Linked DNA regions of Homo sapiens: region 1 is linked to region 2. Evidence: fine-mapped expression QTL. A gene starts in region 2. The other region holds a variant in brackets. All regions are shown on one strand. Distances are between the middles of the regions.

What was found. PIP is the estimated chance that this variant, and not a neighbour inherited with it, causes the effect. A credible set is the group of variants that fine-mapping cannot tell apart.
Region 1: its variant is the best candidate, but not a certain one, in a credible set for the expression of CFAP70 in whole blood (INTERVAL, PIP 0.74).

The regions. Positions count from the first base shown.
Region 1 is chr10:72,417,054-72,425,053 of GRCh38, reverse strand. MICU1 (mitochondrial calcium uptake 1) reads left to right here. Exons shown (of 12, transcript NM_001195518.2): 9 at 1,683-1,820. Among named protein-coding and RNA genes, the nearest start is that of DNAJB12, 66 kb to the right of the region's middle. RefSeq lists an enhancer at 1,768-2,501. The variant G/C (reference allele first, on the strand shown) is at 3,808.
Region 2 is chr10:73,355,492-73,364,025 of GRCh38, reverse strand. CFAP70 (cilia and flagella associated protein 70) reads left to right here and starts at 5,162. Exons shown (of 28, transcript NM_001367801.1): 1 at 5,162-5,248. RefSeq lists enhancers at 4,968-5,493, 5,338-5,557, 5,494-6,019.

The DNA.
Region 1 (8,000 bases), 940 kb after region 2:
AGGATAGTAAATTGAGTCATAAATCACACTTAAATTGAATCCTGAAAACTTTTGGTATTGTCAAAAATTTATCAGCTCTATAGAAAGATGGTGTGACAAACATCAAAAATTGAGTGGCAGTGTTGAAAAAGAGGCTTTCACCTAATATTGATGATGTTGATTTCTTTAGACATAGTTTTGTGTCTCATTTAAATGTGACTAAGCCCCATGGCTGTATAAGTTTATCCAAAACAACACAGTGCTATTGTACAGGAAGCGAATGTGCCACTGCTCAGAAGTAGGAAATGGTGTGGTGTTGAGAGATAGTCTTTGGACCCAAATAAGGCTGAGTTCAAATCCCAGCTCTGTCACATGTAGCTGCATGTTACTTCAGTTTTCTCATCTGCAGAGTGGAGCTAATAGTAGCTGCTCTGTAGGCTGTTATAGTGACTATATGAGGCCAGGCACAGTGACTCACACCTGTAATCCCAGCACTTTAGGAGGCCAAGGCAGGCAGATTGCTTGATCCCAGAAGTTCAAGACCAGCCTGGCAACATAGCAAGACCCCCATCTCTATTTACAAAAAAAAAAGTAATTAAAAAAAAGAACATATTGGTGAAGTACCTGGCCCATAGTACATACTCAGTAAATGGTCACTGTTAGGCCAGCCATGGTGGTTCATGTCTGTAATACCAGCACTTTGGGAGGCCGAGGCCAGTGGATCACCTGAGGTCAGGAGTTCAAGACCAGCCTGGCCAACATGGTGAAACCCTATCTCTCCTAAAAATACAAAAATTAGCCAGGCGTGGTGGTGTGCACCTGTAATCCCATTTACTCGGGAGGCTGAGACAGGAGAATCGCTTGAACCTGGGAGGTAGAGGTTGCAGTAAACCAAGATCGCACCATTGCACTCCAGCCTGGATGATGAGTGAAACTCCGTCTTAAAAAAAAAGGTGGGGGGGAAATGGTCACTGTTATAGGTTGATACAAAAGTAATTGTATTAAAATACAGTTCTATGTTTTGCTCATTGACACAGTCCCACTACTAAGGAAACAAATTTAGGTCTCTGTCAACTTACTGAGCTAGCTGAAGAAATGAGAGCTGAAAGAGAAATTCACTCTTAACTTTCTTATTTCGTGTCTCATATGTAAGTCCTATCTCTATCAATGTCCTAACATTTTATTGCTATTTTGGGGAAACTTGAAAATATATTACTCTTCTTTAAAATTATGCTCTCAGACCTTTATGAATTTTTTAGAAGAGTAATCAATATTATTATCTTTAAAGCAAAATTAGGAATGCTTCCATTCATAAGATATCAGGATATCGGGATATTGCTGAGTCTGGGTCTGATCAGTAAATGTTATCCATCTGTTCCGTTAACCATAAACATCTAGAGGCTAGGAATACCTAACTTCCTGGGAATGCAGCCCAGCAAGTCCCAGCCTCATCTTTCCTAGACCTTACTCAAGATGCTGTTGCTCTGGCTTGACTGTCTCTGACAATAGTAAGTGGCAGATCTGGGATAAGAACCTATATCTTCTGTTTCTTAGTTTTTGCAGATCTTACTGAGAATTGTACCTCAAAAATATAGTCCCAGTCATCAGCTATTTTCTGCCATCAAACACAGCTGATCATTCCGTGTTCCACGTCAAAATACTTTCCATTGACCCTAGGAACATTCTTTCTGTTTCCCTCCCAGTTTGAACGCCATGACCCTGTGGATGGGAGAATTACTGAGAGGCAGTTTGGTGGCATGCTACTTGCCTACAGTGGGGTGCAGTCCAAGAAGCTGACCGCCATGCAGAGGCAGCTCAAGAAGCACTTCAAAGAAGGAAAGGTAGGTAGCTTTGGCTGGAGGAAGAAGAGAAACCGTGGTAATGTATGGTTATTATTTAATATGAAGGTATTAACATAATGATGAGAGTATTTCATGAACCAATGATTACACCTAATTCATTTCTGGTACCTGAGGTCCGTAGGGAGAAAAGAAATAAGCAATGGGTGAGGAAGAGGAGAGCGTCCAGAATCATCCCAGGTTTCTTGTTCAGGAAAGGGTGGCACCAACTGAAATTGAGAATTTTAAAGGAGAGACCGGTTTAGATGGGAAAATAAAGAATTCAGTCATGGGCTGGTCATGGTTCAAGACCAGCCTGGCCAACATGGTGAAACCCCATCTCTACTAAAAATACAAAAATTAGCTGGGCATGGTGGCGCGTGCCCATAATCCCAGCTACTCAGAGGCTGAGGCACAAGAATCACTTGAAACCAGGAGGCAGAGGTTGCAGTGAGCCAAGATTATGCCACTGAACTCCAGCCTGGGCAACAGAGTGAGACTTCATCTCAAAAAAAAAAAAGAATACCTAAAGAGAGTAGTGAAATCAAAGTCAAGGAAATAGAAGGTTCAAGAACTGAGGGGTCTACCATGTCACATATAACAGCGAGGATCCAGTAAGCTAAAGGTGGTAACATCCATTGGTTTTGGTGAAATGGCAGTAATTGGTGACCTTTGAGAGGGCTGTTTCATTAGAGTAGTCTAGTTGGAAGGCATCCCTATTCGATGAAAAGTACAGAAGCAGAGAAAGGAGAGAGGTGGAAGAGGAGGCTCTGGAAAGTGGGAAATCACATAGGCAAATTCCAAGGCAGTGTATTAGCCTACTGGGGCTTCTGTAACAACATACCACAGACTGGGTGGCTTTAACAGGAAAAATTTATTTTCTCACATTCCTGGAGGATAGAATCCTGTGATTAAGGTGCCAGCTGATTTGGTTTCTGATAAGAGCTCTCCTCCTGCCTTGCAGGTAGCTGCCTTTTCAATGTGTCCTCACACAGGCTTTCCTCAGTGTGTGTACATGAAGAGAGGGAGAAATCTCTTTGTGTTTCTTCTTATAAGAACACTAATCCTAGCAGATTAGGGCCCCACCCTTGTGACCTCATTTAGCCTTGTTATTTCCTCTAAGGCCCCATCTCCAAATACAACCACATTGGGCACAGTAGGGGTTAGGGAGGGCTTCAACATATGAATGGGGTAGGGGGTGGGGTCAGTCCATAACAAGCAGGAAAAACAAACCTGGTATGTGTGAAGAACTGAAAAGGGACTAGTTTGTATAGAAGGTTCTGAGCAAAAAGGAGAGTGGCCTGAGCTGAGCTCAGAGAGGGATATGAGGAACAGAACATGCAAGACTTCATAGGAATGGAGGGAGTTTGGAGTTCACTCACAGTGCAATGGAACGCCATTAAATAGTTGTGAGTAGTGAAATGACATGGTTGTATGTACGTTTAAAGAGACAACTCTGGCTGTTTTATGGAAGATAGTTTGGAGAAGAGCAAGCATAGAAACAAAAAGACTGATAATAAGCCTATTAGAATTTAGGAGATGAGTTAGAGTTTTTTGAGCAGCCTTGAGGTTGGAGAACATGGATTTGTGGAACACTAGCAACACTGCTCTCTGGTACCCTTCAACGCCAGCTGCCCCTGGTACAAGGAAAGAAAAGATGGTGGCTGCGCACGGTGGCTCACGCCTGTAATCCTAACGCTTTGGGAGGTCAAGACACGCAGATCACCTGAGGTCAGGAGTTCAAGACCAGCCTGGCCAACATGGCAAAACCCTGTCTCTACTAAAAATACAAAAATTAGCCAGGCGTGGTGGTGGGCGCCTATAATCTCAGCTACTCAGGAGGCTGAGGCAGGAGAATCGCTTGAACCCGGGGAAGGGAGGGTGCAGAGGGAGGCGGAGGTTGCAGTGAACCAAGATCACACCACTTCACTCCAGCGTGGGAGAAAGAACGAAACTCTATCTCAAAAAAAAAGATAAAGAAAAAAAGAAA[G/C]AAAGAAAAGATGATAGGACTGAATCAGCATCTGAGAGAGAGATGAACAAACAGAAGCAGAGACCAGTTAAAAGGTCAGTCCTCATCAGGCATGGTGGCACATACCTGTAATCCCAGCACTTTGGGAGGCCGAGGCAGGAGAATCAAAGTTCAAGACTTGCCGCAATGTAAGACGTGTCTTTTCTTTTTATTTTTCTTTTCTTTTTATTATTATTATTATTATTATTATTTTTTTTTTTTTTTTGAGACGGAGTTTCGCTCTTGTTGCCCAGGCTGGAATGCAATGGCGTGATCTCGGCTCATCGCAACCTCCGCCTCCTGGGTTCAAGTGATTCTCCTGCCCAGAAGTTCAAGACCAGCTTGGGCAAAGTGGCGAAACCTTGTCTCCACAAAAAATACAAAAACTAGCCAGGCATGGTGGCACGTGCATGTAGTCGCAGCTACTCAGGAGACTGAGGTGGGAGGATCACCTGAGCCTGGGGAGGTTGAAGCTGCAGTTAGCTATGATCATGCTACTGCACTCCAGCCTGGGTGACAGAGTGAGACCTTGTCTTAAAAAAAAAAAAAATCCAGGCCTCTAAGAGAACACACACACATAAACACACAAAGCAGTGCTAAGGCTAGAACCCAGATTTTCTCATTCCCAGCCCAGTACTCTTCCCACTGGACAATGGCTACCATCTGACCATGACCAAGAATCTAACCTGGCACTAAAAATGTTCCATGAGAGATTTCCAAGTGTATTAGTCCATTCTCATGCTGCTAATAAAGACATACCGAGACTGGTAATGTATAAAGGAAAGAGGTTTGATTTCACAGTTCCACATGGCTGAGGAGGCCTCACAATCACGGCGGAAGGCAAAGGAGAAGAAAAGACATGTCTTATGGCTGGGCGCAGTGGCTCATGCCTGTAATCCCAGCACTTTGGGAGGCCGAGGCAGGCAAATCACCTGAGGTTGGGAGTTGGAGACCAGCCTGACCAACATGGAGAAACCCCCTCTCTACTAAAAATACAAAAAGTTAGCCCGGCGTGGTGGTGCATGCCTGTAATCCTAGCTACTCAGGAGGCTGAGGCAGGAGAATGGCTTGAACCCAGGAGGCAGAGGTTGCGGTGAGCCGAGATCGCGCCATTGCACTCCAGCCTGGGTAACAAGAGCGAAACTCCGTCTTAAAAAAAAAGGAAAAGACACGTCTTACGTTGTGGCAGGCAAGAAAGAGAGCATGTGCAGGGGAACTCCTTTTTGTAAAACCATCAGATCTTGTGAGACTTACTATCAAAAGAACAGCACATTAAAGACCTACCCTCATGATTCAATTACCTTTCACCAGGTCCCTTCCACGACACATGTGCATTATGGGAGCTACAATTCGAGATTTGGGTGGGGACACAGCCAAACCATATCACCAAGATAGTGTGGCATGGTAGGCATGAAGATGGAAAACTTGAGACTAACTTCTGCCTCAGAGGTTCCCATAGTCATTAGACAAATCACTTAACCTTACTGGCCTCATGAATTGAGAGGCTTATCCTAGATGCTTGCTGTAAGGGCCCTTCTAGCTTTAAAGATTCAATAATTGAAAATAAGATAGAGGATTGCTAGTGCTTGTCCCAGTTTTCCTAGTTAGTCTTTGTGCAAGAAATGTTGCATGCATAGCATTGCCCTAACTTGGTGGAAAACCCTTCTTATCAGCCAGACTTTTTCCTCCTTGTCTTGGATATTGAAAAGTTGAAAGGACCTCTGAACCAGGCTGTGGGCTGCAAATGAGGGCAGGCTGGCTCTGAGAGGAAGTGTCAGCTTCTCTGAACTCAGTCCAGCCTTTTCCCACAGCAGGTGTTCTCTTGGCTGTGGGGAAGACTCATCATTAATGGAAAGTGACAGAGAAAAAACATTTATCTCCCATAGAGCACTTCTACAGTACCCAATACTTAGCTTATATCTGTTGGAAATCGTAATTTCAAAAAACTGATTACGAATGTATAGGTGGATTTTTTACCCCTATGCTGGAAGAATAGTGTTTACATTCAGACATGCTCGTTTATTTAGACCATGCTTATTTTTAAAGGTTGGTCCAGATATTGATTTGACTTTAATTATCTATCATGATAGGTGAATTCATATTTCATTGTGAGTTTACACTTAAAAGCAATAAGGGGCATTGGAGGCATCTCCCTTGAAGGAAGAGTATTTGAGCATTGGCAGGAGTTAATTTAGGATCTGAAGACCTTGCAAAAGAGCTCTAAAATGAAAGGACAAATTTTGTCAGATGATGAAAATCTGCGGTGTTAAATTACTTTTGGCCCAGAATTTCTAGCCTGTGTTAGCAACGAGATTAAGATTGATTGTCCTCTCATGTTGATTAAATAGTTTGTGAACATAGCAATTAACTAAAGTGAGTGTCAAGGAAGGGCCTTTGCTCCTAAGGTTACGAGTCCATCTCTCTAGGACCATTTCCTATAAAAGGGGAATCACCATCTGCTTTCTAATTGCTTCTTTTATTCCACTTTGGATTTGTTAACATGAAAATGTAAGTTTTCATTTGGCTGACATTAATCAGTTTCTGTGTGAGGTTCTGTATCAAGGTATCAAACAAGACCTAAGAGATTGAAGGTCCTAGTGGTGGTATTAAATTTTTGCATATAAATTAATGACCATGCAATGTTTCACAGCCATTTTTCTCTTCCTTTCTAACAGCCTTGTTAGATACTGTATTTTTGAGAATATAGAGACAGAAAGAGAAGTTAATAACCCATTCAGAGTCTGGTCTAAAATCCAAGGCTTCCTATTCCAGATCTTGTCTTTTCCTTAAGAAAGTGCTGTTTCTCCTAATCATACTCTTCCTGTAAAGCAGTGCTTCTCTACTATAGGATCACTTGAGGAATTTTTAAGGAATGTGGTTGTTTGGGCCCTCTTCAAATCAATTAAATCAGAGGCTCAGTAGGTGGGTCCAGGCATCAGTGTTCTGGGGTTTTCTTAACCCTCTGCATGAGAAATTCCAGAAGTGTTTCTTAAAGGGTGATATGGTTTGGCTGTGTCCCCACCCAGATCTCATGTTGAATTGTAGTTCCCATAATCCCCATATGTCCTGGGAGGGAACAGGTGGAGATAATTGAATCATGGGGCAGTTTCCCCCATCCTGTTCTCATGACAATGAGTTAGTTCTCATGAGATCTGATGGTTTCATAAAAGGCTTCCCCCTTCACCAGGCACTCATTCTTCTTCCTGCTGCCATGCGAAGAAGGATATGTTTGCTTCCCCTTCTGCCATGACTGTAAGTTTCCTGAGGTGTCCCTAGCCCTGCAAAACTGTGAGTCAATTAAACCTCTTTCCTTTGTAAATTACCTGGTCTCAGGTATGTCTTTATTAACAGCATAAGAACGAACTAATACAAAGGGTCCCCAGGTAAATCTAATGTGCAGCTAGGCTTATGAGCCACTGCTCGAGAGATGCAATGCTCCATCAGTGTCTCTAGCTGTTTTATCTCTAAGTAATAGTTTGAAGAACTGGGGAACCTGCCGTGCTTGACAAAAATTACTCTATTGATGCTCTGAAAAACCACCATGTTTTTATTTAACAAAGAGTTTTCTGAGACTTCATAAATGTAATTCACAGTGGTGATCCTCTATGTTTATGAATGCAGAAGCTACTAACTAGTAACTTCTTAAGGATGAAATTGAAAATTATAACTCAGTTCAATGGCAGACATTGCTGTGTGCAAGACACTAAGCCAGGTGCTGTGAAAAAGACCTTCCCTTATCCTTACAACTATATTTCTTTTTTTTTTTTTTTTTTTTGAGACGGAGTCTTGCTCTGTTGTCTAGGCTGGAGTGCAGTGGCCTGATCTCGGCTCACTGCAAGCTCCGCCTCCTGGGTTCATGCCATTCTCCTGCCTCAGCCTCCTGAGTAGCTGGGGCTACAGGTGCCCACTGCCACGCCTGGCTAATTTTTTGTGTGTTTTTAGTAGAGACAGGGTTTCACCATGTCAGCCAGGATGGTCTCGATCTCCTGACCTCGTGATCCACCCGCCTTGGCCTCCCAAAGTGCTGGGATTACAGGCGTGAGCCACCACACCCAGCACAACTATATATATTTCTTAAGTCTGTAATAGTCTAGTAAGAGAAAAATATGTATGCAAAGAACTCTGTAATTCTATATTCACATTTATATTCAATATTTATCGATCAGCCACTATGT
Region 2 (8,534 bases):
TTTTTGTATTTTTAGTAGAGACGGGGTTTCACCATGTTAGCCAGATGGTCTTGATCTCCTGACCTTGTGATCCACCCACTTCAGCCTCCCAAAGTTCTGGGATTACAGGCATGAGTACACCTGTAGAAGGCCTGTAAAAAATAATTTTTTAATAAAAAGCTTATAAGGACATACAGAAAATATTTTTGTATAGCTGTAAGAGTCAAAAAGTTAAGAAGTTTAGGCTGAGTGCAGTGGCTCACGCGTGTAGTCTCAGCACTTAGGGAGGCCGAGGCAGGTGCATCACTTGAGCCCAAGAATTCAAGACCAGCCTGAGCAACATGGTGAAACCCCATCTCTACAAAAAATACAAAAAGGCAGGAGGTTTGCTTGAGCCCAAGGAGACTGAGAATGCAGTGAGCCATGATCATGCCACTGCACTCCAGCATGGGTGACAGAATGAGACCGTGTCTCCAAGGGAAAAAAAAATGTTTAGGAAGCAAAAACGTTACAGTAAGCTAAATTAAATTTATTATTAAAAAGTTTTAAAATAAATTTAGTGTAGCCTAATTATATAGTGTTTGTTAAGTCTGCAGTAGTATACAGTAATGTCCTAGGCCTTCACAATTCACTCACTACTCATTCCTTCACTCACCCAGAGCAACTTCTAGGCCAGCAAGTGCCATTCATTGTGAGTGCCTTCTACAGGTGTACTATTTATCTTTTATGCCATATTTTTACTGTACTTTTTCTATGTTTAGATACACAAGTACTTACCATTGTGTTACAATTGCCTACAGTATTCGGTATGATAACATGCCATACCTGTTTGTTGCCTAGAAGCAATAGGATATACTCTATATGACTTAGGTATGTGGCAGGCTACGCTATCTAGGTTTGTGTAGATACACTATTTGCATTTCCATCACATTTAGTGATGTTGAGCATTTTTTCATATATCTGTTGGCCATTTGTATACTTTCAAGAAATGTCTATTTAGATCTTTTGTCCATTTTAAAATCAGATTATTTGTGGGGTTTTTTTTTTGGATTTTTTTTTTTTTTTTGGTGTTGAGTTTCTTATATACTCTGGACATTAACCCCTTGTCAGATGCATAGTTTGTAAATAAAGACCATGTATGACAGACACACAGCTAACATACTGAATGAGGACACGTTGAAAGCTTTTTCTCTAAAATCTGGAACAAGACAAGGATAGCCACTTTCACTACTTCTAGTCAACATAGTACTGGAAGTCCTAGCCACAGTAATTATGCAAGAGAAAGAAACAAAGGGCATCTAAATTGGAAAGAAAGAAGTCAAACTTCCTGTCTGCAGATGACATGAATTTATACACACAAAACCCTAAAGATTCCACCAAAAAACTGCTAGAAGTAATAAATTCAGTAAAGTTGCAGGATACAAAAGCAACATACAAAAATCAGTAGCATTTCTATATGCCAATAGTGAACTATCTGAAAAAGAAAACAGCAATCCCATTCACAATTGCTACAAAAAACAAAACAAAAACCCTAGGAAGTTTTAACCAAGTAGGCAAAAGATCTCTACAATGAAAACTACAAAACATTGATGAAAGAAACTGAAGACACAAATAGTATCCTATGTTCATGGATTAGAATAATTAACATTATTAAAATGTTCATACTTCCCAAAGTGCTCCACAGATTCAACACAATCTCTATCAATATTGCAATGACATTCTTCACAGAAATAGAAAACCCTCAAATTTATAGTTTTAGTTCTTACATTTAGGTCTTTGGTCCATTTTGAGTTATTTTTTGTATATGGTGTGAGGTAAGGGTCCAACTTCATTCTTTGCATGTGGACATTGTTTTTCCTTGTACCATTTGTTTAAAAGACTATATTACCCCCTCCCTCCCACATCCCAGTAGATCATCTTGGCACTCTTGTTAAAAATCAGTTGACCGTAAATGTAAGAGTTTATTTCTGAACTCTCAATTCAATTGATTATTTTGATCTATATGGCTATCTTTATGTCTTTATTACTGTCTTCGTTACTTGATTACTGCAGCTTTGTAGAAAGTTTTGAAATTGGGAAGTGTGAGTTTTCCAACTGTTCTTCTGTTTCAGGATTGTTTTGGCTACTCTGGGTCCCTTGCATTTCCATATGAATTTTAAGATCAGCTTGTTAATTTCTGAAAGAAAAAAAAAACAGTTGGGGTTTTCATAGTGATTGCTTTCAATCTGTAGATCAATTTGGGGATGAGCAATACATTTGATTGTATTATTGTCAGAAATATGTTGACTTTGGAAGTAACAAATTAGCTAATTAGAAACAAGTCTTTTGGAGTAATGAGAAAGGAATTTGTTGAGCTAGTGCATCATTTAATGGAGGCCTTTGAAACTCAGACTAAGGCATTCAAATTTTATTAGAAAGATATTTTTATAGTTTTTTTCCCTGAAATTGGTTTGCATATGTAGATGATTTTATTATGATTCCAGTACTATTATATTTTCCATACCACTAAAGAGGGCTTTTTCCATACACAAGTGGATGTTTTAAATCAGTCAAAAAGAATGCCTTTCAAACAGAGTGGCCACTGCTAAGCACTGTAGGAGAATAAAAGAACTGTAACACACACACACACGGGAGGCTGAGGTGGGAGGGTCACTTGAACCCGGGAGGCAGAGGTTGCAGTGAGCCGAGATCATATCATGCCACTGAACTCCAGAGCAAGACTGTCTCAATAAAGAAAAAAAAAAAAAAAAAAAGGCCGGGCATGGTGGTTCATGCCTGTAATCCCAGCACTTTAGGCGGCTGAGACAGGTGGATCACCTGAGGTTAGGAGTTCAAGACCAGCCTGGCCAACATGGCCCTGTCTCTACTAAAAATACAAAAATTAGCCGGGCGTGGTGATGGGTGCCTGTAATCACATCTACTCCAGTGGCTGAGGCACAAGAATCACTTGACCACAGGAGGTGGAGGTTGCAGTGAACCCAGATTGCGCCACGGCACTCCAGCCTGGGCTACAGAGTGAGACTCCATCTTAAAAAAAAAAAAAAAGAAAATTGTAACATACAGCCCTTGCTCTCAGGTACCCTAAAGTTGAATGGAGATTAATTATGTTTAAGGAGGTGACATCTGTTATTTATCCTTGCTTGCCTAAGACCTTGAAGCAAAGTACTAAGTAGACCAAGATCATGAGCGATTTCTGGAAGAACAGCTCCCTATTAAAGACTTGGCCTAACCCAGCTTATTATGTAGAAAGAGTCTGTCATTTGCAAGTGGGATAGCTGTCTCAGTGCAAATTCACCCAAAACTCTCACTTGGGAAAAAAAATCCAGAGAGAAATCCTTACTCAGTAGTGCCACAGTAGTTTTATTTTGAGAACCTTTATTACCTGTAACACTGCAACTTTCAAAAAATATTTCTCAATATTTATAATGTTTCTTTATTCATATAAATAAAAATTTTAAAATTTGACTCTGGTAACTATTTCCTAAGCAAAGGGCTTCCCAGGGAGAGTGGTTATGCGTGTGTATATATTTTAATTGTTTTGAAATGATCTCGAATGTATAGAAAAGTTGCCCAAATCGTGTAAGGAAGTCCCATGTCCCCTGCACTCAGATTCCCAAATAGTTAACACTTTATTGCACTTGTTCCATTGCTCACTGTGTGTGTATGTGTGCAGGTGTGCATGCATGTGCATATGTGTGTGTACATGTGTATGTATCCCTTGTTAGTCTTTTTCTGGACCTTTTGAAAGTCAAGAGAGCAAATTGAAGAGATGGTGTCTCATCACTCCTAAACACACTAGTGTTTATTTTCCCCTAAACAGGGACACTCTCCTACCTAACAACAAACAAACTTCCACATCAGGAAATCAATATTGGTACAACACTACCATCCAATTCAGATGAGATTGGGCATGTTCGGGGTGGTATGCGATTCACAGAGCTAATTCACATTTTTCCCACCGTCCTAACAATGTTGTTTTCCTTTCTGGTCCAGAATGCTATACAGAGATACATATTGAATTTAGTTGTCATATAACCTCAGTCAGAGACAGTTCCCAGTCTTTCTTGTCCTTGGATGGTCTACAACCTGAGTTCCTTTCATGGTAGGAAAACCAAAAAGGATGCTTTGTGTGTGTGTGTGTGTTTTTTTTTAGTGTGTTTCACCAGGAGGCTCACAATGTAGACTCCTCCCAACACTGGTGATGTTAACCATGATCACCTGATCATGTTGGTTGCGTCCATTCACTGTTTCCCCCTCTGTAATCAAGTAGTATTCCATGGAAGCATTCCAAAATCACGCCAGTATTCTATGCCTCATAGAACATCTACCCACCAGCCTTAGCGTCCATTGAAGACTCCTGCCTGAGTCATCCTCCTCAGTAGTTGTCAAATGGTAGTTCTCTATTTCCATCCTTCTCGCTACACTTCTGGGTTGGCATCCTACTTTGAAAGAGTTTTCCTTTTTCTCTGTATCAACACGGACTTGCATATTCCTATTTTATTCAATGGGTTGTAATCCGTTATCGTCGTTGTTTACTTCATGCTCAAATTGTCCCTTATTTGGCCCATGGGAGTCCCTTCAAGCTGGCTCTTAACACTGCAACAATTTAAAGTATATATACTGCTAAAATTCATCCGTGTTGTGTGTATGGCTGCAGTTCATTAACTTTGACTGCTTGTAATATGCCATTTTGTGAATATGCCACAGTTTATTGGTCCACTCATCCACTATTCCTTCGACGGGCACTTGGGTTGTTTCCAGGTTATTGCTATTGTGTTTTGCTATTCTAGCTCTTTAATGTTAAATTTTGAATATTAAAAATTTGTATTAACATCATAAACTTCAGGTCTGTTTATTGTACAAATATTGAGCACCTAGAAGCAGGGTCATTTTGCACTCTCATCAACAGGGCGTGACGGGCTCATTTAAAAAATATTGCATATTTCACGGAGAAATATTTAAATGATGTTTTCAAATCAGTTTAATAAAGGCCTTTTTCTTTAAACTTCCTTTTGCTTTTTTCCCTCCTATTATAGAGAAATATTGAAATCAAAGAGTCGAGAAAGCAAAATGTAAAGGTGGAAACCTATGCACTTAAACCCAACTCTTGGCAAGGTAAAGCATCCGCGGAAACAGCAGGCTCTCGAAGTGAGGAGGCTGCAGCCGGCGCTAGGGCGCAGGCGCAGAAGCTCAGCGTCTCGCTCCCTGCTCCCGGCCCCAGAGGGTTATCGCGAGTCTTGGAATAAACTTGCTCGTGCGATGGCCAAAAGTAAGTTCTCGCGAGAGGTAGTTGGTTGCTATAGTTGTCAAAAACATAACTGAGGCTGCTGCAGGTAAGACAGTGATCCCTCCTGAAGAAACTCTCTCTTCCCGGCCTCCCCACCTCAGCCCTGCGGCCACACCACAGCCGTCACCCCGATCTTCTGCTCCCTTAGCTAAGGCCAGGCTGAAAACCCCGATATTTAGACCGAAAAGCCGCTGGCCCGGCCAGGTGCGGACTCTGCCGCCAACCCCAGCCCGGCGACCTCCACAGGAGCGCGGACGTAGACCTTCCTTTACCGCTTCTCGTCGGAGGCCTCCTCATTCTGCGCTGACTGCGCTTGTCCCCAGACCAGACTCAGTCACATCGCCTCCTTCGTCTAACCTTTTTCTCACTGGACTCTCCCCTTGCAGCTTCTTCCGAGCAGATGACAAGAAATGCGTGCCTTGCCGGGGGCAACAAGAGTCCCCACCCTAGCTGCCCTGACTATAACTTTAGTCCTATATCTTGCATTCATAATTCAAACACGACGCGAACGCCTGTTGTGTACAAGACATGGTGCCAGGCACTCTGGGCCCGTAAATATGCGTGAGACAGGTTACATGCCTTCAAGGGTGTAAATGAGCTCTCAGGACAAACGCTGCATATTAATAATACCATTTGTGCAGTGCTTCATACTTAAAAAGCTTTAATATCTTAGGGGATATTCACAATAAATGTGAAACAGGTTGGAAGTTATCCATTTTACAGAAGGTGAAACTGAGGCTTAGAGAAGTTAGGCATTTGCCTAGGGGCACATAGTTGTTAAGTAGGAAAGGTCTTTTGAATACCCAGTCTTCATAAACAGGACAGCTTGTGGTAATGCCACAAAAGACGTGTAAAGTGCTAAATGAATTCAGAGGAAAGGCAAGTTTTTCCGACTGGGAAGCTTCATGGACTAGGAAGCATTTGAGCTGGATTTTAAAGGATGAGTAGGATTTGCTGTAGAGACGGAGTGAGGAGAAAGGGAGAGATAATTCCAGGGGGAAGGAAAAATGCAAAGGTTCAAAAGCGACTAAATGCAGGTAATCTTTGAAAAATACTAAGCAAGAGCATAAGCTAGAAGAGGGGAGTTGACTGGCACTGCAAGATCCTAGAAAGCCCTGAATGTAGTACTACATTTAACTACAGTTAAACTGTAGTGTTACAGTTTATTTGGTAGGTGAGAGGGAACAAGACAGTGATACGATCAGATCTGTACTTTAATAAGGTATTTATCTGCTTGTCTCTTCTCATTTTCTCCCTATTTCTTCTTACTCCACCACTGCAAGCTACTTGCTACTTGCTATGTGTGTTGTTTTGCCTCTGAACGTTTTAAAATCTGTTCCCTTTCTTGGAATATCCTTCCCTTTATTAAGACATAGTTCCAGCGTACTTCCTCCAAGATTTTCCTGGCATGCATATGTATTCTCAAATCCAGCTAGGTCCCAGCTTCATTCAGCACTTCCTTGCTGTATGACTGCTGGTAAGATAACAAACTTCTCTGAAGCTCAATTTTTTTCAATCAAATAGAGATTTAAGAATCTCTTAGAAGGGAGGCTACATTTAAGATAATAAATGCGAAGCACACTTGGCACACTGGCTATAATCAGTTAATTTCCTTGCTTCTCTCATTCTTTTTATTTGTAAAAGAAAAAATAAATTTCCACCCCCCTTTTCCTCCCTGTGTGTTTCACTCCTCCCTTCTTTCCTCTGTCAGAGCACCTGTCTCACAGATTATGACTCCTGGTCTAGTTACACGTCTCTCGTCCTCACTAGATTTTAAATTTCTTGAGGTTAGAGAGTTCACATCTTATCTCTTGTATCCTCAGCACCCATCACAGTGCCAAGCTTAACAAGTTTTTTCAATGAGCAATTCTGACAAAAGCAGGATGAATTAGAGTGAGAAACTGGAGTCAGAGACACCAGTTAGGAGGCTTTTGTTACAGTCTAGCAGAAGGGTAATGAAGGCCTAATGCCATATTATTGAAAAGGAAAGAAGACTGATACAAAAGGGCATTTCAAATGTACATTTGACAAAGAAGTTGTCAGTGCCACTAAAGCCCTTAAAGAGCCCAGAAATATGTTGTTGAACAAATGATTTGACACTTTTAGGTGACTGGAAAAATGCTGGAGTAGCTGAGAAGAGGCAGGATAATTATAAAGTCTGAAGGCTGTAAGATGTTGTTTTCTCTTTTGTATCACCAAGTACACTTAGCATAGTATGTCCTCAGTAAATGTTTGAATTGAGTTAGAAAATAAGGCCTTTTCAACAGGCACAGTGGCTCATGCCTTTTAATCCCAGCACTTTGGGAGGCTGAGGTGAGTGGATTGCTTGAGCCTAGCCGTCGAGACCAGCCTAGACAGCATGGTGAAACCCTGTCTCTACAAAAAATACAAAAATTAGCTGGGCGTGGTGGCGCATGCCTGTAGTCCCAGCTACTCAGGAGGCTGAGGTGGGACAATCACTTGAGCCTGGGAGGTTGAAGCTGCAGTGAGCTGTGATCACACCACTGCACTCCAGCCTGGGTGACAGAATGAGAGCCTGAAAAAAAAAAAAAGGAAGGAAGGAGAGATAAAAGACCTTTTCCAAAAAACAAATATCCAATTTATTATCGAAATTGTTTGTGCCCTTAGTATTGTAAAATTGACAGTATATCTGACTAAATAAGAAATACATTAAGACCTTTTCCAGTGGACTACCATTTTGTGTGGCTGCTTCTTTCCTGCTCTCAAAATATATTTTTGTAAAACTGAGAAGTTAAATAATGTTTGAAGGGAGCTTTGCAGATTAAAAAAAACGGTTACCAGAGAACACTGTGAACAGTGTATGGCAGCAGTCCCCAACCTTTTTGGCACCAGGGACCAGTTTCGTGGAAGACAATTTTTCCACAGACTGGGGGCAGCGGGGATGATTCAACCACATTACATTTACTGTGCACTTTATTTCTATTAGTATTACACGGTAATATATAATGAAATTTTTTTGTTTTGAGACGGAGTCACTCTTTTGCCCAGGCTGGAGTTCAGTGGTGTGATCTCAGCTCACTGCAACCTCTGCCTGCCGTGTTCAAGCGATTCTCCTGCCTCAGCCTCCCAAGTAGCTGGGACTTACAGGCATGTGCCATCACACCTGGCTAATTTTTGAATTTTTTAGTAGAGATGGGGTTTCACCGTATTGGACAGGCTGATCTCGAACTCCTGACTTGGTGATCCGCCCGCCTCGCCTTCCAAAGTGTTGGGATTACAGGCGTGAGCCACCGTGCCTAGCCTATAT